Regions from separate parts of the Homo sapiens genome. Here regions 2, 3, 4 and 5 are each reported to be linked to region 1. Evidence: microRNA targets listed by miRTarBase, many of them from high-throughput screens and not tested one by one. Region 1 holds a microRNA gene; each other region holds the end of a gene's coding sequence.
The links. Region 1 holds the annotated microRNA hsa-miR-6864-5p (UUGAAGGGACAAGUCAGAUAUGCC, at 1,665-1,688, opposite strand). A microRNA usually pairs through its seed, bases 2 to 8, with sites in the 3' UTR of a target mRNA and lowers its output. Matches are read on the target gene's strand: a 7mer-m8 pairs with bases 2 to 8, a 7mer-A1 pairs with bases 2 to 7 and ends in A, and an 8mer does both.

Region 1 (4,151 bases):
CCCGCCGCGCTAGAGAACCACAAGCCCGGCCGTGCAGCCCTCCCCGCGGCGCCTTAAATAGATTCTTCACTATACTCTGTATGTTACAGTATGTACAAGACCCCTCCCCTCGGGGGACGGGGCGGACTCCGCAACGCGTTCCTATGTACACCACCTCCCCTTCGGCCCTGAGGTCAGTGGCCAGAGTCGGGTGATGGGGTAAGACAGGGCCAGAGAGGGAGGAAACAGACGCAAACATGCGGAGTCGGGTGGGGACACGGTCAGCCCTGAAACACGAGGGGCGTGCGCAGCGAAGGCAGTGGTGGGAACCGAGGCGGATACATTCAGAGACGCGTCGAACAAATAAATAAGGCAAGTCAGGAGGGGGCCGAGTCGGGTGCAGGCAGGAGGAGCTGGGGAGCAGGGGCAGGCAGGGCTCCGGAGGTCACAGCGGAAGATGCAGGTATGTGGGGCGCGGGTTTTCTGGAGCCAGGACCAAAAGAGACGGGGCACGACCAGGAGGGACGAGGAGAGGGGTGTGGGAGCAAGGCGTGGGGAGGAGGGAGGAGGCCTACAGAGGGCTCCAACAAAGGTGAACAGGAAAGCTGCCGACAGGGGCTCCCCCTGCCCCAGAAAGCCCTCTCCCTGTTAAGACTGCACGAGGCGCCCCCAGGGTGGTGAGAAAGGCGGTGGCCAGGTCATGTGGCCAGTCCCGGCTGGGGAAGCCCTTCCAGCTCCTGGTTCTGCTTCAGTTCCCTCATCCTGCAGAGAGAAAGATAGGAGTCAGAGGAGACTGGCGGATCACGACGGGTGGCAACGCAAAAGCCCAGGGGGAGAAGGGATGAGTACCTGTGTCGGCAGCGCCGCAGGAATCTCATGATCTTCCGGGCTGCCTGGTCCTGCTTCTTGGTGAGAAAGGAGCCTCTGGTGAAAGAAACAAAAGATGGACCTCACAGAAGGCATCGCATGCCTTCGGCCCCCCCAGGAACCCTAGGCAGGGAATGGCAGTGAGGCATGATGATCAAGAGGATGAGTAAGGGGGAATGGCGTGGATGCAGTGGGTGGGCACAGAGGGCTGGGGCTGGGCCCTACTTGTTGCGGGCAGGCAGGGTGGCCGAAGTCCGGTGGGGAGGGCCGGGCCTGCGGCGGTAGGAGCGGTAGTGCTGCTGGATGAGCACAGCCGCTCGGCGGCTCTGCTGAAATCGCTTCTGTTCATAGTAGCTTCGGAACTTGCTCTGGATCAGGATGGCCGCCTGGGTCATCTTCTTATAGAGTGCAAACTGCAGGGGTGGGGAGGAGGGACAGGGGCTGAAATAGAGGGACGGAGACCCAAAGCCCTGAGGCTCACCCAAGTTAGGCTGATGCAAGACTCTCTGTAACCCACACACTCAAGGAAAGACTGAATCATCACAGACCTCACACTCAGAGCTCATGCCTAATACCTTAAGTGCAATCCAGGTCAGCTTGTGGAGAGAGAAGGGGAGTTAGGGCTCTGGCAACATTCTGGAATGGTTAGGCGTGGGTGTGGGTTGGTGGGTTGCTGGTTACACTTTTGAGGGAGAAGGGTCTCACCTGCTTGTACTTCCGGTAACAGCGCTGGATTACAGCTGCTGCTACCTCCTGCTGCTCCTTCAGCCGCCGGCCCTGAAGGGAGAGAAGTCTCACCACCTCATGACCCACATAATGGCATATCTGACTTGTCCCTTCAACTTTCCTGGGGTTCCCCTGACCCTTTACCCCATCCAAGGCCTGTCTGCACGACTACTCATCCTCCAAAAGCCCTGGGAGCCCAGTCTCCCCTGACTGGAGATTGTGTAATTCATCCTGAGACCCCTGCCCCTGACCTTGTACTTTCGGAAGGCCGTCTGGATGACTCGGGCAGCCTCATACAGTTCCCGCTGCTCGTGATCTGATAGTGTCAGCAGGGCAAAATCACTTTCCATCTTGCCACTGGTGGATGCAGAGAGAAACTCTGCCCAGGAGGGTGCTGAAGGGACAGCCAGGCGACCTCGCTCAAAGGGCAGTTCGCTGTAGGCGGTAGGGAAAGAGGGTGTCATGAAGCATCTGAAGTCCCTCCTCTGCCACCTATGGATGGCTACGAAGGAAAACCACCAGCAACTGAGTCTGGAGAGTGACTTCAGAGTTCATCAGCCAGTTCAGTTCGCTTCTCCAAGGCCCTGGGGCCTCAGCCAGAATGGAGCTTTGGCTGTGGGAAAGCCAGCTTTCTCCCTTCCTCCCATCTTCCTTTGAAGAATCTGGAGGCTTTGTCCTGAGCTAGTCACCTGGGAGGGGTTGAGCTGGGGAAATGGTCCACATTCTCCAGGTAGCTGGCCAGCCAGGACATGGTCTCACTGAGCCCCACAGCCCCTGTCCGCTCCCGCATTGAGGCTCCAGCCTCGGGCAGCCCCACGAAGTCCTCTCGTTTAATCCGCTCCGGTGTGGCTTCGATGATCTGCTTGGCTAGTGAGATCATGTCCACCTGGAAGAAGGGAGAAGCTGAGTGAGTCCTTAGGGGCCCCAGCTGCCAGCTGTAACCTCAGTCCATTCCTATCTTGTTCCTTCTCTCCCTGCCAGGTGCTGCTAACCCTGTCTTTCTGGGCCACTGTTCCAGACTCATTCATTTATACTGATGGGGCTCCCACTTGGGGGTCCCTCTGTGCTGAGATGCTATGGAGAATATAGGATAAAAAGGAGATACTCCAAGTGGGGATTCAAAGCTGAACAAATGGAGGACTTGACACCCTTTCAGGCCAACCATCCACTGTCCTACCTGGGCCTGCCCCATGCCAGCTGACCAGCACATGCTCCCCATAGGCTTGGCTGTGCCCACCCCCAGCTCCCTTTCAACTCTCCAAGAACCATTCCAACACTTGCCAACTACTACCCGGATGAATGGCTCCAGTCTGGCCTTTGCTCCAGCCCTGAAGCCTATACTCCAGCACTTCCTGCTGGACACACTCAACACAACCTACTTGTGGAGTTCCCTAAGTTTTTTGTACTTAAAGTGCCACCCACTTACTCCATTAGTCTCTCTAAAGCAGGTATGTCCCCAGTCTCTATCAGAGAAGTACAAGGCTATACTTGAAGATTCACTTTCATTCCACAAGACTTTCTTAGCTTTATCATGTGCAAGCCTCCTTCCTGCATCAGATCACTGCCAAATACCCTCATCTTGCCAGCCTTACCTCTCCACACAACTCCCAGCTGCCCTCCGTCATCTTGGTTCTCCTAGAACCTTGTCCCTACATAGATCAACGGTTAACTCCTACAAACCAGCTCTAACTGAAGATATTCCCTAGAATTTTTGTTATAGAGACAGGGTCTCTTGTCCAGGCTGGAATGCAATGGCACAGTCAGCTCACTGCAACCTCATATTCCTGGGCTCAAGGGGTTCTCCTACCTCAGCCTCCCAAGTAGCTACAACTACAGGTGTGTGCCACCATGCCTATTTTTAAAAAATTATTTTGTGTAGAGATGGGGTCTTGTTATGTTGGCCAGACTGGTCTCAAGCCCCTGTTCTCAAGTGATCCTCCCACCTCGTTCTCTGAAAGTGATGGGATTACAGGGGTGAGCCACCGCACCCAGCCAGAATATTTTTTAATGCTTTTTATATTTTAAATCTTACTATTTTGTCTTTTTTTTTTTTTTTTTGAGACAGTCTCAGTCTGTCACCCAGGCTGGAGTGCAGTGGTGCAGTCTCGGCTCACTGCAGCCTGTGCCTCCTGGGTTCAAGTGATTCTTGTGTCTCAGCCTCTCAAACAGCTGGGATTACAGGCACATACCACAGTGCCCAGTTAATTTTTGTATTTCTTGTAGAGAGGGGGTTTCGCCATGTTGCCCAGGCTGGTCTCAAACTCCTGGCCTGAAGTGATCCACCCGCCCTGGCCACCCAAAGTGCTGGGATTACAGGCGTAAGCCACCAAGCCCGGCCAAATTTTTTTTTTCCAACATCTGTATTGTGGGACCAGCCAGAATTTTCAACCTCCGCTGCCTCATGACTTCCAAGTCACATGGTCTAAAAGGAGCTAAGCAAAAGGCTACCTTGCCTGTCCCAAAATGAAGTAAATAGGCCCTTCCTAAACTGAAGCCAGACTTTGATTCTGCTTCATGGAAGTCGGCCTCACCCTTCCTACTCCACTTCTAGCCCCCATAACTCCATCAATATAAGCAGT
Region 2 (4,000 bases), not on the chromosome of region 1:
TCCTCATGGAAATCAAATGCATAAACTAAAATGGAAGGAACCTGAGTAAAGTTACCTCTATAAAAGCCATCTTGGTTATATTAAAAATATGAGCTTATATTTGTTAATGCTCTACCTTTTGTATATCTTTTTGTTTTCAGCCCACTTCGATGTGTTGTTCTTGTCGCACTTAGGGACATCAATCAAGGAGAAGAGCTTTTTTCAAACTACTACACAATTGTCAGCTAACTCTGTGAATCAGAAATTATTAGGTTTTCTACTCAGCTATTAATTCTAAGTGTTTTTTGTTAATCACTTCTCTGAGTTCTACCTGTAAAACAAATATTTTGAGACTTAATTGGAATAGGAATTTCTTATGTTTTTGTTGATATTATATTTATGTTCCAATTTCATGATAAAAGCTACTTGCTTCATTACAATTTCAAATTTGTAATGCAATTCCAAGTTTAATTGGTTTTCACCTAAATACACAATAGCTTATTAAATTAAAACCTACTCTTTGAACTTATAATTTCAATTTTTCTTTTGTTTATTTTGTAAGCTCTGTGGTGGTTTATAAAATTGTAGCCAGGCATCAGCAGTTCTTGTAGTACTGCTGATGTGTACAAACTTCTGTAAAAACTTTATTTTTACAGAATTGAGTAAAAAATACCTATTGTGTTGCCATGAGTAAATTGGTGTGTCTATGTATAATGTAAAGATTGCTCTAGCTGGCTGAGGGGAAAATGTGAGGTCATTATTACTATTTTCTTTACTCTTTGAACATTTTCACACCAAAGAAAAGGTGGAAAAAAAGTGCAAGATAGTGTTGGTGGGAGGAACACTTATTCCCCGTGTCTCATGTCTTCATGTGGAGGGCTTCCACTGGTTAATGTTCCTAGCCTCTCTCTCCACCCACTGGAGGGAGATTGACTCCCTGATTATGTTTGGAGAATAACTAGGCACCCATGTCCTATATACCCTTCTAGTTCCTTCCCTGTGGACTCTGGCTGCCAGCAGAAAGAATGTGTCCTGGCAGTTCTCTGCCTTGTGCAGAGAATAGCCTGTAGCCAGCCCAGCCAGTGACAGAGTGAGTCCAGAGGTGTAATATATTGGCAGGCCAACCTGGCTGCAGCCCTGAAGCTACCTTCCCGTTTTATTAGCAATAGTTACTTTGACCTCCATCGACCTGACTCCAGCTCTCTCAGTTCCAAACTTGGATAGGAAGGAGGGTGTTCTTTACTGGATCCCTCAAAAATTCATGGAACCTATATGACCAGATTCTGATTACCTTCACTTCCTTACCACCAGCTTTACTCACCTAGTTTATTGCAATTTCAGTAGCCTCTCAATTGCCTTCCTTGTTTCCACTCCTGTCCCCCTTACAGAACATATCACCAAGTGTGATTCTTTTAAATGAAAGTCAGGTATTGACATACGTCTGCTCAAAACCCTCTCCCTATCATGGAGTAAATGCTGAAGTCCTTCACATGCATAACCTGCTCATGACCTCAAGAGCTCCTCTCCTTTCTCCCCTTGCTCACTCCATCCCAACCCACACCTGCCTCCTGGCCACTCCCCAAACCTGCCAGGCACATTCCCAACCAAGGACTTTTGCACTTAGTTCTCTCTGCCTGTAAACATCTTCCCCCAGACAGCCACATAGCTTGTTCTCTCCCTTCCTGTCACCTCAGTGAGGAGCGTTGCCTCATCACCCCACTGAAATTTACAATCCCTCACTGCTCCCAACCCTGACATATTCCTCATTCTCTTTAGCACTTACCACCAGCAAGCTCAAAAAGCGTACCATAGATGGAAATTATGGCCAAAATGACTTCTAGTAACAGATGTACTAGATTATCCTGCTTCCACAGGCTTTTCCGTCTCCTAAAGCCTGAAAATACTCTGAGCTCTCACATGGCACATTGTTGCATTCTTGCTGTATTCGGAATATGTGTGCTTGTCCCTGCTCTGAAGGCACTTCTGTGCATGTGTCCACCACAGAGCCCTATGTGCTAAGGTCCTTTCGTGTCTGACAAGGAAGGGATGTGGTTTTAGTCAAGTAACCAAAGCAGAGGAGTCAAGATTTTTGCTTTCCTTTTATCCCCTTCTTGGCCTTGTACAAACTTTGGATATTATGGGCAAGCTGATCACTGCATCTTAAAAATGGAACTACATAAAGCTCTGGTCAGAGGAAATGAAATATGGGGACAAACTTGTGAAATAATGGCAAGATAGGAGCTTTAGCTTAAAAAGATGTTTAGGAAAGATAGATATGACTACGGTCAAACTATGAATCGTATGGATAAGGAAGACTAGTTGACCATAAATGTAGTCTGTCAAATAATAATAATATTTGACCAAATTTCAGATCTGTCTGTCTTCATAAAAGACAGTTACCTAGAACAGCGTTTGAAACATAATAAATGTTTCCTGAATTAAACTAAAAGTATAATCCTTACTTTGGGACTTCTTTTTTTTTTTTTTTTTGAGATGGAGTCTCAGTCTGTTGTCCAGGCTGGAGTGCAATGGCAGGATCTCAGCTCACTGCAACCACCACCCCCAGGGTTCAAGCAATTTTCCTGCCTCAGCCTCCTGAGTAGCTGGGGTTACAGGCATGCGCCACCTCGCTCGGCTGATTTTTGTATTTTTAGTAGAGACGGGGTTTCACTATGTTGGTCAGGCTGGTCTTGAACTCCTGACCTCATGATCTGCCCGCCTCGGCCTCTCAAAGTGTTGGGATTACAGGGGGACTTTTATTATAGATGGAAATTATAGAGGATTTAAGGAAAATATTTAATCTACCAACTTCACTATCTATCATATATCTTATTTACTGCATCTAAAACCAATTTAACAGTGGTATAATATCTATCTATTTGCTGTAGCTTAAGATTCATTAAATAAAATATCTGTATTTTTGGCAAATATTCACACAAACCAAGAAAAAAAGATTCCCAGATTTTTATTTCTGGAACTGTACACCAGGTATTAAAGTACAACAAATACAAAATAATGCTCAAAAAAATCAGTGTTTATGTACAAATATTAAAATCAATGCAATAGCAACTTCCTCTTGAACATCTGATACTGAAACTTGTTCTGATTGTCACTAATTTATCTCATACTCACAGGGTACTTATTTCAAACTGGGACAATTGGAATCACTGGTCATCTAAGAGGAATATTAATATCTACCATATTTAACAATAAAACTAATAGTTTCCTCCATTTAGTGAAAAAATTAGGAACTTTTTAAAAAACATAGTAACGTCAATATTTTATAAATTATTTCAATTTCCATTTGTAGACAATGTGCTTTGAAACTCTGGGCAAACAATCTCCTTGGTGGTCAGGTTTATTTGTTAGTTTACATTCAAAGTTGAAATATTCACTAGAGACTTTGGTTAAATTAAATAGTATCACTATGCTCTATTAGATCTGATGTTCTCAAATATTTATGAGCCTCAACATTTTAAAAATTAAAAAGGAAATGATTGCACAATTCTTTGATCTAATTGTACAAATTTTAGTATTTTTTAAACAGTATTCTACATCCTTCAAGTAAATTCAGCAGCTGACCATGACAAGAGGAAAACTAAACATTTAAAAAGCTAGCATGAAAAAGATGAAGTACAACTAACAAATGTATTGCTATAATCACAGCACCAGTTACACTTCTAAATGAATCCACTGTCCTTTTCAAATTCCCTGTACATAAAAGATATATCAGCCAACACTGCAACTGCTCACCATGAATTTTTGGTTTGTTCATAAGAAAATAATGGGGCAAAGGAAAAAAAAACAAAAAGAATTTATCACAGTTTGTTATAAGAATTGTGCTTAACACTTGATAATAAAGGCATTATTGTTTCTTCACATGATTGCAAATCCGGTTGTTTTCTTGCTTCCAAATGCAATTCTTTTAATAAACAGTAACAAATTCTCTGTTAAGATGTTTAAACTGAGAGAAAAAAAAAACCCAGTAAATCCAGCTTTTAAAAGAAAATTCAATAAATAG
Region 3 (4,000 bases), not on the chromosome of region 1:
GCAGCCCAAAATGATGCCAATGAGCTGCTCTGTCTCGTCAGGGCAACCAAGGAGAAGAGGGAGGAGTCACGCCCTGAAGCGTACGACCTTACACTTTCTCAGTACAAGCAACTGTTATCCATTGAGTCCAGACAGTTGGGAAGTGCCTGTAGGAAAATGGCGATGGCTGAGAAAAGCCCGGAGGAGATGCTCCTAGCTATGACTTCCAGCTTTCAAGTGCTCTGTTGCCTAACAGAAGCTTGCATGCGATTAGTTAAAGTCGTGAACTCAGAAACACAGCGGCAGGAAATTGTAGGGAAGATCGATGAAGTGGTCATAAATTACATTTGTCTACTGAAAGCTGCCGAAGCAGCCACTGGAAAGAACCCTGGGGACCCTAATGTTGGACTCTCGGCGCGACACTCAACCACCATGGCCGCTCTCGTAAGCACACTGACACGTTCTCTCAAGAGGCTTTTAAACAAATAAATATGGAAGTCACGTCATAATCTACCTTTGCAAAGCCATACATGAACTTTTATTTACTTTGTGTGTATGATGAACAGATGTCTCCTTTCTTCTCTCTGTATATTTTGTTATTTTATATAAAATAGGAGATAAAAGTCACATTGATGAAATGTTGAAATGTACTAATCAGATGTATTCTGTTTATATTATACATATATATACACGTAAAAGAAATATCCAAGAAAGTGATGACATTTGGCTATTTTTCATATAGTTAAAACTCCAGGTATATGATGTGAAATTTTAAATTCTACCATGTTAGAGCAAAACAATGAATCCTATCCCCTTTCTTTCCAAGTAGCTACTTGGAAACCATATCATTCATATTTAGAAGTAAAACACAAAACAAAAAAGAGAGAGAAAAGAAAAGAAATCACAATGTATATAAAACAGTACTTATGTTTTAAAATTATGATTTTTAAGCATTGGAAATAGCAAAAAGACATTTAAAATTCAAGAAGCTATTATGAATTACTAGAGAATATATCTGTAATAAATTAATTTTTTGCTCATAGTATTTGGTTACTGGATGCTTTCTTCCAAGAATCCCACATATTTAATTTGGGTTTTTGCTACTGGGGCTACAAATTGGTGGGGATGGATTCTACTGTGTCAGCACAAATGCTCTTCACAGTGGTTCTAGCATTTAAAAAACTTCCCGGGGAGAAGAACAGAGGGGATGATGGGCAGTTTCCTAGGTAACACCTAGAGTTATAGAATATCTCATTACATAAAATGTATGGAATTAATAATACCAAAATTAATTATTTGATGGAAAGATCTGCTTTGACTAAATGTCAAAAATCTGCAAACCAAAGACATTATCTTCCCCTCATCCCAACTCAACTACGAAACTTAAAATTCCCTTTAGAGTGATAGGACATTTAGTAAAGTATTTGCAAACTTAAAAAAAGGAACATTTAATGATCATCAAAATTAAGTACAGATTCAGTAATGTAGACCAGACCACACACCAGCACCTGTGAGTCTCATCTCAGATCACAGCTCTCAGCATAGGGCTTCATGCATCACCGCCTCTACAGAGGCTAAGGCTGCCAGTCAAATTTGGAATTATAGCGTAGTACTGGGACAAAATCTCAAATCTTGGATGTTCCAGAAAATCAGGGAGAGATGGCTACTGTAATCATGGGAGCCATGAGTAAATAGTTAAGTATTTATTAAATAAATACTTAATCTGGATTGGCTGATAAAAATATGAAATCTGAAAAAAAAAAGAAAGAAATGGAAGTGGTATATTTGACCAGTTCAAGTGAAACCAATGGAATGCAAAGAACTTTCCAGGACTGTCACATCTCTAAAAGTACCCTGCAGTCATAAAATAAAATCGATATGTATATATGTATTTCCTGGGTCATTCAGTGCTCAAGTTACATGCACTCCTACTTAGACAGGTGGCTCCTTAAGAACATGATGGGAGTACACCAGGTGCAAATATTTCTACTTTTGTAGCCTGCTGAGAAGGAGTCATAACACAGTCCACAATTGCAATCTCTCTCTAGTCAGCCATTCCACAGGGACTCAACAACAAAAGCCGCACGTGGTTATGGATGGCAGCAAAGGAAAGGAGTTTAGGTGTGTGTTATTATAAATAATGTTTAACTAAATAATAAAACATTATTTCATTACAATTATAATTATAAATATTGGTGTTTTGATATTGAGAGATATTAGTGGTGTTTACTGTGGAAAATCTTAGTAAATATCATTCTGTGTACTAAAATCCTAACCTATTAATAGGATGTGTGCCCTATGTCAGACAGTGTGCTAAGCATATTAACTATATTATCTCATTTAATCATCACAACAATCTGCTGGTTTGGACACTATTCTCTCTGGAGGCAATATGGATGAGTTCTTACGGATATGGGGTTTGGGGTCAGAAACATCTTGATTAAAATTTTGACTCTGCCATTTTCTAGCCCTTTTATGTTGGGAAAGCTACTTTTTCTAGTCTCAATTTCCTCATAATAAAATGAAAATCAATTATAAGATCGATTTCCATAGGGTTGTCATGAGTTTTGAGTAAAAATGTGTATGTAAAGTTCTTACCACAATACCTGGCAGAGAGTAAGTATTCAATTAATGTTAGCTATTATTATCATCATAATCGTTGTGTTAAATATATTGCCCAAGATAATATGTGGGGGAATGTTTGTTTTATATGCATATTGTATCCTGACTGTGTGCAGAACACATTATGTGTATTGCATATATGTAAAAGAAGTGTACAAGGAAGTGGCCATCCTTGTTCAAGTTACGTATCTAGTTAGAACAACTTCCCAGTCCATTGGAGTTCTTTGAGAAGCCTCAGGGAAGTAGCTCTGGGTCCTTCTAATCAACCTCCCATTACTGCGCCAGTAAGTTTCTGTTTCTTATAAATAAACTCTTTGCTATTCAGAAAACCTCAAGGGGCCCCCACATTCACTAAGCATGGGGCTCCTAACTGGGGTCCAGGTCCATAGAGTGTAGGAAGAACATATTAGAACAATACTTGTGCTTATTTTTATCTAGCTTTTTTATGTTTGTGTATGTTTTATAATGGCATAATAGTACAATGGTACATGTACATAATTTTAAATAAATAAATGAATGAATGAATAAATAAGCATATGCCTGGTGCATGCATGTGACAATATTGTCGCAGGTAGGGTTGCATTCACTGAAATCTGGAGAGCACTGAACTGGAGAATAAACCTTCCTTATACTCACGGTTCTTTATGTTTAGTCCCCAGTCTACTTTGCCAAGTTTATCTCCTACCATTTTTATTAATCTTTTATCACAAATCTTTCAAACAAAAGTAGACACAATCGTATGAATTCATGTGGACTCATTACCTACCGATTCATGTCTAATCTTATTTTCTGTATTTCTACCCACCTCCTCTCCCACTGTATGATTTACAAGCAAGTCCCAGACATCATAGTGCTTAGCCCATGAATATTTCAGTAAGAATATCCTGTGAGAACTTTTAAACATAACCACAATGACGTTTTTGCATTTTAAAAATTGGGAATTCCTTAATATTATCAAATAAACATTACAGAAATAAATGATGGAGAAAGTAATAATCCCCTTAAACCCAACTTCCAAAGATAACCATTGTCCACAATTTAGGGGCTCTTCATTCCATCCTTTACTGTATTATATAGTAAAGTTATTTGTATTTTATTGGTTTATGAGCTTTGCTTTTGGCTCAGAGAGTTGTTCTGACCACAGTTGCCCTCGTACCTAAGTGTCAGTCCCAGCCTATTTCACATAAGTGAATTCGTCAGAAGGGATATGATTGATGTGGAAGGACAGAGTACTCAGATCAACAACCACACAGCATTAGCTTCAAGAAAAAAAAAATCAAAAAATGAATGCAATTGCCGAGACATTAAAATTAACACAGATCCCACTAACCTTAAGCTCAGCAGAAATTAGTCTAATCACAAACGAAATTATTTTCCAGAAAAGCCTGAAATCCCTAGC
Region 4 (4,000 bases), not on the chromosome of region 1:
ATGTTGGCCAGGTTGGTCTCGAACTCCTGGCCTCAGGTGATCTGCCCGCCTTAGCCTCCCAAAGTGCTGGGATTACAGGTGTGAGCCACCATGCCTGGCCTAGGTGAGTGGATCTAACAAAAACAGAAGCTAGCCCATAGCTACCTGGGTGGTTCCCAACCCCCACCCCAATTGGCCCCAGAAAGAGCTGATGTTTATCCACACTGGGGCAGCAAGCTCTGTACAGGCCCTCTCTGGTGACTCATAGGACTCCTGGGCTCCCATGGTTGAACCTAAACCTTGACCTCTGTCTGCCCAGCTGAGTTCATGATGGGTCCTAGGCCATGGCAGTAGGCCCAGGCCAGCCCAGCGCTCTACATGGGGCTAAGGTCCTCAGGTTCCTGGCATGACTTCAGGGCCATGGCCTGGTGGCTGGGACACACTTACACAGAGGTACTGAACACTCTGTTCCAAGAGAATCTGTCCACTGCCCCCTCCTTCCACCCCCAAGGGAACTTTGACCTGGGCCCAAGCCCTGGGCAGGCCAGTGACCAGGCCTTGTCTTTCCTCCACAGAGTCCCAGAACCTGCCAAAGCAGCCCCCTCTGATGCTCGCCCTGGGCCAGGCATCTGAGTGTCTCCGGCTCATGGCCCGAGCAGGCCTGGGTTCTTGCTCCTTTGCCAGAGTTGATGACTACTTGCACTAGCTGACTGTGCTGGCTGGCTCTGGCTGGCCCTCCACTGGCCCCAGGGCTGGAGCTGCCCTGCCCTCCATAGGCAACTGGTGCAGGGACTGGGAAACCATAGACAGAGTCCACTCCTCCTGCCTGGCCTTTCCCCCTCTCCCTTTCCTTCCTTCCTTCCTTTCTCTGCCCACCACCCCGCTCAGTCTCTCTCTCTCTCCCCTTCACGTGCAGCGGCCTGTAACACAGTATTGGCTGGTTACTCTCATGTAGCGCCTTCTATTTTGAAAGGGGGGTTTTGTTTTGAGGAGGGGTTGGGGTTTTTAAATTTTTTTCTCCTGACTGAGCCACCAGTATTTATCTCTGGAGAGTTTGTGCTGAGCTGGTTTCTGCTAATTTAGTGATGAAGCCTATCCAAGTTGGTGATAGCTTATTATTTTCATAAGTAAAAAACAAATGAGATTATATATATATATATAAAAATATATATATTAAAAAAAAAGACAGTATTTATCGTAGCATTAGTGGTCCAGCACCTCTTGGGTGAGGCTGTCCAGGCACCATGTTTTCTTTGAGTCCAACTCATTAAAAAAGAAGAATCTCTGTCACCTCAGCCAAGTGATTTATTTTTTGCTCCCCCTTTTTTGAGTCACAGGCCGAGCTGCAGCCTAGGAAACCCAAATAGGGTTTGGTGGGCCACTTAGTGGGCATGGTTACATTGGTTTATAGCATCCCAAGAACTGTAGATCCCTAGGCCCCTGAGAGCTGGACAGAGCAGAGAACTACAGGGCCAAGGGTCCAGAGAAGTGATAACTTGGCCCAGGGCCACACAGCAGAGGTAGAGGGTCCTTGGCCAGCACACTATCTACCACTCTACCCCACCTCCCACTGCCTGCCTTGCTCCCCTTTCCTCCCTTTTCAATACCCTATCTTCCCTTGTTGTTAAGATGGCCAAATAATACATTTACTCTAAATTGATTGCCTGGAAACTACCTGCCTTCGTCCTGAGAGCTTCTGTGTGTCAGGCTGCTGGAAAGAAGACTCCATTCCCAGGACAGAGGCCCTTGAGTACAGGGGCTGCTTTCTTCCTGCCTAGATCTTCACCATCTCTGCACAGCTCTGAGAGAATGGATGCTTTCTGTTGAGAAACCAGTACCTTGTGGAGGCAGGTTCTTGGGCTGCTACTCCAGGGAGTGGATGGAATCCTTGGTCCCCTAGGCCAGACTTCACTGCCACTGTGCCAGACAGCTCCCTGCAGCTGGGCCCTAGCCACTCTTAGGAAAGACTATTGGGAGTATTTGCTGGCCAGAGAATGGGACTCTATCAGCTTTACACATGTCCCACCAGCTGTTTCAGATAGATCCTTACAGCTGGCAGAGTAAAAGTGGTCCCGCTACCATTGGGGAATCAGGAAAGGAAAGACTGAGATGGTTGCCAGGACTTGGGGTGGCCCACCTGTGGAGAGGACTGGCTGCCCTGGAGGAGGAAAGGGAGGAAGTCTACACAGAGGAGCACCAGGACGGCTGGAATTTCCATATGTGCTTCACATTGTGAGGGGAGTGCACAAGCCGCCCATGCAAAGAGTAGGGTCAGCCATGGCAAGGCCGGAAGTTGAACTTTCAGTCCCTGCCTGAATCTGGGCTTTGCAAGCTCCTGCTCCATATTGGTGGACATGGGAATGGTTGGTGTGGCCTGAGATACCCATTGCTCACCAGGCCTCACTGGGCCCACAGCTGGGCAACAAGAAAAATGTTTGAATTGGACCAACTGCTGGTGATGGGGCCAGGGCCCTGGGCCCTGTGCTGTCAGAATTCTGCCTTGGGAAATGATCCTATAGCTGCTGCTTTTTCTTGGTCCTTGGGGCTGGCAGACCCATAGACCATGGCCTGTTAGGAGGCGTCCTGTCTGTAAAGGAAATTCATCTCTTGTGACAGCCTGGGGCTACCTAGCTCCCAAACCCAGAAGTTGGAGACATCAGGCTGTTTAAATGATCATAGCCTAGCAGGATTGGATTAAAACCACAGGCTTTTGCAGCTGGAATGGGGTTCAGTGAACATCTCCCCCATTCCTCTCTTGCTACAAATAAGGAAACAGGCCCAGGAGATTAAGTGACTTGGCTAAAGTCACATAGCAAATTAGTAGCAGAGCCGGGACTATCCCTTATCCCTGTGGGTTGGGCAACACTATTTAGTCCTGAAACCGAATGGCAGATAAACCCCATGAGGGGTCAGGCTGATGTGCCCTCCAGCAGTATCTGAGAAGCTGCTACCTTCAGGGGTGTGTCAGGGATGAGGACGGGTGCCTGAGCTTAGGTTGTGGAGTGGCTGAGAGGGCCCAGGAGGGCTCGGGACAGCTGTGTGCTGCATGGGGTTGGGTGTCTGCCTGGCTCGCACTTGGTACCCATGGCCACCTCCCCATTTTCTGTGCCTTATCTCACTGTTTCAGCTGAGTCCAAGTTGTTTACTCTGTTCCTCTCCAGAGGGGCTCTCTGTCCCAGTTGGGCAGCTCACCTTTGGGACATAAGCCTTTGCCCCACAAGCTGTGGAGAGGGCCAAAACCAAGCTGCTTGAGCCCACTCTCTTGCTGAGAGTCCAGGCCTGCCTGCCTGCCAGCCAGAGGTGCCCCTTATGCACATCCAGTCCTACCAGCCTGCTTCCAGGAGCCTAGAGTGGGAAAGGCACCTGGGGGAGCCCTGGTGAAGGGCTGGACCTGACCCATGGAGGCAGGAGGAAGACCTGGCTTTCTTGGTTTGTCCGGCCCTGGGGAGCAGCCTTCCCTACTCACTTTCCCCTTGCGGCACCAAATGGTCACTCCTTCCAGAGCAAAAACTGGCACTCATAGCAAGCCAGAACCCCCATCCCCATCCTCATGGGTCTGTGGCTGGGTGCAGGCCATCAAAATGGACACCACGAGACAGAAGTGGGGACTGCCTGGCCACCTAGCGCCTTCCCACTCCTTAAGCAAGCACAAAGAAGATGAGGCAGAGAATTGTCAGAGCTGAAAGTTCCTTTGGTTGCTCACAACTCAGGTATGCACCCATGTGGCAGCCAGGCAGCGGAGCCCTACTAGACTGCCAGTCTCATGCACCCAGACCTGTGGCCAGATTGTGGCCTCTGGCTGCCTCAGGCATTTTCCTCTTTGCATTGGGTTTTCCTGCATTAGTAACTACAGCTGCAACAGACATCCTCCACATTGTGCACACTGGTTTTGCCTTTGTCCTCAAGAGTTGATACTTGGCATTAGCATGAAACTTGTGGGTGTGGGAGGATGGAGAGAGAACTCTAACACAAAACATCTTATTAAAATTGTACTTGAGAGACAAAAAAAAAACTCTGTTGT
Region 5 (4,000 bases), not on the chromosome of region 1:
TTACTACAGGTAAGACAGGTAAGAGAAGCTGCAGAGATTCAGGGACTGGCAGAAAGAGCATCGCACAGGACCACTAGGTTTAGGTGACCTGGCTACCTGGAGTCCATCTGAGGAAAGTTTCACTTGACAATAGAAGCTTGAATCCTGGATCATTCGGTTTAGAAACAGGCTAGACAAGAGAGAAAAAGAGGCCCTCGTTGGAGTTGGCTCCATCTTTCCTTAGCTCACATAAAAGCAGGGATCCAGTTAGCGTAATGCACTGTTTGGCTTATTTTTGGTGTGCAATTATACCAATAGTACATCTGATATTTAGAATGACAAAAATAGGGTATCGTTGAAATTTAAAGTGACAATGAGCACACTTAACAGTGGTCTGTGGTATCTGAGGAAACTTTAGATGAACAGAAAGCCACTGTTTTATGAGTCCACCCCAGTAAGCTGTTACAACCCAACTAACTACCTTTTCATGTTTGTTTTGTGTGTTGAATAGAGGTTTGTGAGCATCAGAACGTCTTATAGGTTAAAAACAATCAAAAACCATTTTGAGGAAGTGGCGTCTCCACAAACACTGTACACCCAGACAACGCGGCATTTGTGTTACACTAGCACCCGACTGTGTGCCAACACTAATGTAATCGGCACAACTGGGGTGTGGTTCCTTCCCAGTTAAAAGAGCTATATTACAGAATGGATCACTGTTGCAGACCAGTCAACACAATATTCAAGTAACAAGGTGTTTAAATGGATAAGTGAAAAAAATTTTACCTAACACTTCACACATCTACATAAAATTAAATAAAACAAACTTTTAATGCATATGCAATACAATTTATATCTTTTAGGAGTTCTAAACTAAAAGTTAAACTATTATTTGCATCAATGACACTATATTTTGCACAATAACTTATACTTAGGAGAAAATTTTCCACAAAAATATATATAATTATGACATTCACATTGATAATTTTTAAGAAGACAAAGCTTAAGTGAACATTCCATCTGAAGCAGTTATCACACCCCAAACCCTACCTGCCAATGCACCTAATTCTTGATATGTTAAAAAGTCTTCATATAAATAAGATCAAACCACTGCGCTTTTAAAGCTAAGTGATTTCTTACATTTACATCATTGCAAAGACAGTGTAATGCAACAGTTTAAAACACAGTGCTATCTTACGCGGGAAAGCACAACAAAGGCAGTCAAGGACAGCTCCCATTTTCCCTCTGTCAAATAAAAATGACATGCCCCTTCCTCTCGGGGAGAAAGCCCAGGTCAGCTGCTGTGATCACACGTGATTCTTCAGGGCTGGAGACCATTCAGTGCCAGGAACCAAGTAAAGGGATAGTGCAGAATACAGATCAAGGCCTGGCACTGCTGGTCAGTTTGCCACGCTATATAAAAATTAGCATCAAGCTTCCAAGCACTGCCAGGAGGGACCAGGCTATTTTCCTTAACAGAGATACAGACAGACCTATTGGCAGGGTGAGAAACGCACTGCAGCAATTGCCTACTGCTTCTGTTAGCAAGAAGGAGGTCTTGAGGGAAGCACGGAGAACCTAAAGCTTCAGCTCATACCTTAGTGTACCCTTTATGCAATGTGCAAACTTAGGCTGACTCCTTCCCATGCTTCTCCTGCCGCCCTCGGTGTACACAGCAGGCTTATGGTGAAAAGAAGCCTCTCCCTCATCACTAGTGTTATTTTGCTAACCCTGTCTCCAGGTAGCAGCAGCAATCCGGGACTCCTCTGATGCTTCCCAGGCTTTTACGTGACCAACACACACCTGGCACGGGAACGAGATGATGAAGGGCAGCAAGTCCCATTGTACTTTCCTTTTGAATGACCTTTCTCTCCAGACTATACTAAAAAAAAATTTACAATTCCAAAAAACCTAGGTTTCTAGCTGACCCTCTTTCTAAAGAGAAAATCAGCTGACTTCAACAACAACAACAACAACAAAAAACAAGGTGCTTGGGAGACAAAACATATCAAACTTTAATTGCATATTTTAAATTCTTCAGAATTCTGTTTAGGCCTTAAAGCATCTGCATTTTTTTGGTATTGAAAGCAGGAAAAAAATCCAAATGATGCAAACAACAACAACAACAACAAAAGCGACTTCAGCGTATTGAGTGCAGTCTGAATGGCCGTGGGGTGGGAACAGGGTATGTTAGAATGCAGGCTGTCTGCTCAACCCTCAGCAGGCCCATGGTCTGATAAGATAACAAAAGTGATTCTGGAAGTCTCAAAATGTTTATTAGAAATTTTTACTTGTTCCCAGTCCAACCAAAAGGCATTACAGACCACTCTGTAGGTTATTTCTTTTCATCTCAGTCTCACTAGACCAATACATTGATCACTTCTCTGTCCTGTACTCTGATATGAAAAGAGAGTGCATGGTGTTTGTGTAATCACATCAGCACATGAAGGACACAAACTGACATACAGAGTGCCACATAAAAGGCCAGGCACACCGAGAGAACGCGGAACAACGCGCAGCTTTCATAAACCAGCGCCAGCTATTCTAATATCCTGACATTTAAAATCTGCACTGTCAGAATCTGCAGCAAGCTCTCCCCTGTCTCCTAATCTCAGTGATGTCATCTTTGGCTAGCAAATAACTTGAAAGAAGAAATAAGACACTAAAACAGAAAAAGGATTGATAACCATGGTTGCCAAAAGGAGAAGGCACCAATTCCAAATTTACAAGCACCAGGTACAGTGATGTGGGCCGAACCTCTTGGAGGTGGGGGGGTGGGGGGGGTCAGGAAAAGATGGGGTGGCAACCACCCTGGGGTCACAATGCTGAAAAGTTGAAGGCAGAAAGCATTGAGGTCCACGTTCCCTTTAAGCTACAGTGTCCAACGACAGTTGCAGTAAATGATCTTTGTAACACTTGGGAAGGGAGAAGAGGGAGATTTAAGCCAACTCAATTTATAAATCATAACTGTACCCCATGTTTAGGGAAATGTGAGTTGCATCAGGATGCTTGGCATGATAAAGGTTATGATGCAGTCTGGCAATATATATTAGTTTCCAAAAAAGCGTATTATCACTTAGGTGGTTGTCTCAGAAAAGAACAAAAGAAACTTTCTAGAAGGCCAACAGGGTCGCGGTGACTCTGAAAATGACTCTATGCACAAAGTAGAAACTGCAGGCCATGCAGGAACAGAGTCGGGCCTTCCAAGGAGACTGCCTGCTCTGAAGCTGCTGACTGGGAAGAGCTGCCATTGGTGGGGCTCGGGGGCTCCGGCGGGAGAGGCGGTTCCCAGAGTCACAAGAGATGTGCAGGCCGTGAGACTTCCCCAGCACGTGGGCAGAGTGTGAGATGCAGTGGAGCTCTCTGGGAAGTGGCGCCAACATGGAGGAACGAGCAAAGAATTAAGGCAGATGGAGCACAGGACTGGAAGTATATGCCTTTTTTGGTAATAGCTGCTTGTCCAGAGAGATGTGATGCAGATGGCTAGGTGATGTCTCATAATACCTGATATCCCGGATAACACAGTAGTCCACACCAAGTGTTCAAAGCCACCAGTTTCTCAGGAGGCAGATGCATATCTGACATCCAGAACAGGAGCCTGAGGCCAAGAGGAAAAAAAAAAAAAAAAGGATCAAAGAGTAGGTAAACAACACAAGCTGCTATTTCCAGTGTACTGAAAAGAGAAGGTAGCCAGCAAACCTGCAGAGCAAACACCGAGTTCTTTTTTTTTTTTTTGGAGGGGAGACAGGTCTCACTCTGTCTCCCAGGCTGGAGTGCAGTGGCGCTATCTCGGCTCGCTGCAACCTCCGCCTCCTGGGTCAAGCGATTCCTCTGCCTCAGCCTCTCAAGTAGCCGCAACTACAGGCACCTGCCTCCACGCCCAGCTAATTTTTGTACCTTCAGTAGAGACGGGGTTTCACCATGTTGGCCGGGCTGGTCTCGAACTCCTGACCTCGTGATCTGCCTGCCTCGGCCTCCCAAAGTGCTGGGATTACATGTGTGGGCCCCCACGCCCAGCCCA

Region 2: miRTarBase lists SETD9 as a target of hsa-miR-6864-5p. The part of its 3' UTR that is shown has no 7-base or 8-base seed match.
Region 3: miRTarBase lists FRMPD4 as a target of hsa-miR-6864-5p. The part of its 3' UTR that is shown has no 7-base or 8-base seed match.
Region 4: the mRNA of RANBP10 is a reported target of hsa-miR-6864-5p. Seed matches in the 3' UTR shown: 7mer-m8 at 882-888.
Region 5: miRTarBase lists RCOR1 as a target of hsa-miR-6864-5p. Seed matches in the 3' UTR shown: 7mer-A1 at 2,813-2,819 and 7mer-m8 at 1,803-1,809.

What each region holds. Positions count from the first base shown.
Region 1 is chr17:4,968,079-4,972,229 of GRCh38, forward strand. It overlaps MIR6864 (microRNA 6864), which reads right to left and starts at 1,693; the gene lies at 1,624-1,693. CAMTA2 (calmodulin binding transcription activator 2) reads right to left here. Exons shown (of 23, transcript NM_015099.4): 17 at 2,262-2,458; 18 at 1,824-2,007; 19 at 1,552-1,623; 20 at 1,422-1,442; 21 at 1,072-1,259; 22 at 829-903; 23 at 1-741. The coding sequence ends at 678. It overlaps MIR6865 (microRNA 6865), which reads right to left and starts at 2,072; the gene lies at 2,008-2,072. RefSeq lists enhancers at 1-138, 139-816, 784-1,983, 817-1,493.
Region 2 is chr5:56,916,675-56,920,674 of GRCh38, forward strand. SETD9 (SET domain containing 9) reads left to right here. Exons shown (of 6, transcript NM_153706.4): 6 at 141-674. The coding sequence ends at 228. MIER3 (MIER family member 3) reads right to left here. Exons shown (of 13, transcript NM_001297599.2): 13 at 2,929-4,000. Among named protein-coding and RNA genes, the nearest start is that of SETD9, 9.1 kb to the left of the region's middle.
Region 3 is chrX:12,721,391-12,725,390 of GRCh38, forward strand. FRMPD4 (FERM and PDZ domain containing 4) reads left to right here. Exons shown (of 17, transcript NM_001368397.1): 17 at 1-3,133. The coding sequence ends at 468. Among named protein-coding and RNA genes, the nearest start is that of PRPS2, 68 kb to the right of the region's middle.
Region 4 is chr16:67,723,113-67,727,112 of GRCh38, reverse strand. It overlaps RANBP10 (RAN binding protein 10), which reads left to right. Exons shown (of 14, transcript NM_020850.3): 14 at 555-4,000. The coding sequence ends at 685. Among named protein-coding and RNA genes, the nearest start is that of GFOD2, 5.8 kb to the right of the region's middle.
Region 5 is chr14:102,726,045-102,730,044 of GRCh38, reverse strand. RCOR1 (REST corepressor 1) reads right to left here. Exons shown (of 12, transcript NM_015156.4): 12 at 1-3,577. The coding sequence ends at 3,539. Among named protein-coding and RNA genes, the nearest start is that of TRAF3, 49 kb to the left of the region's middle.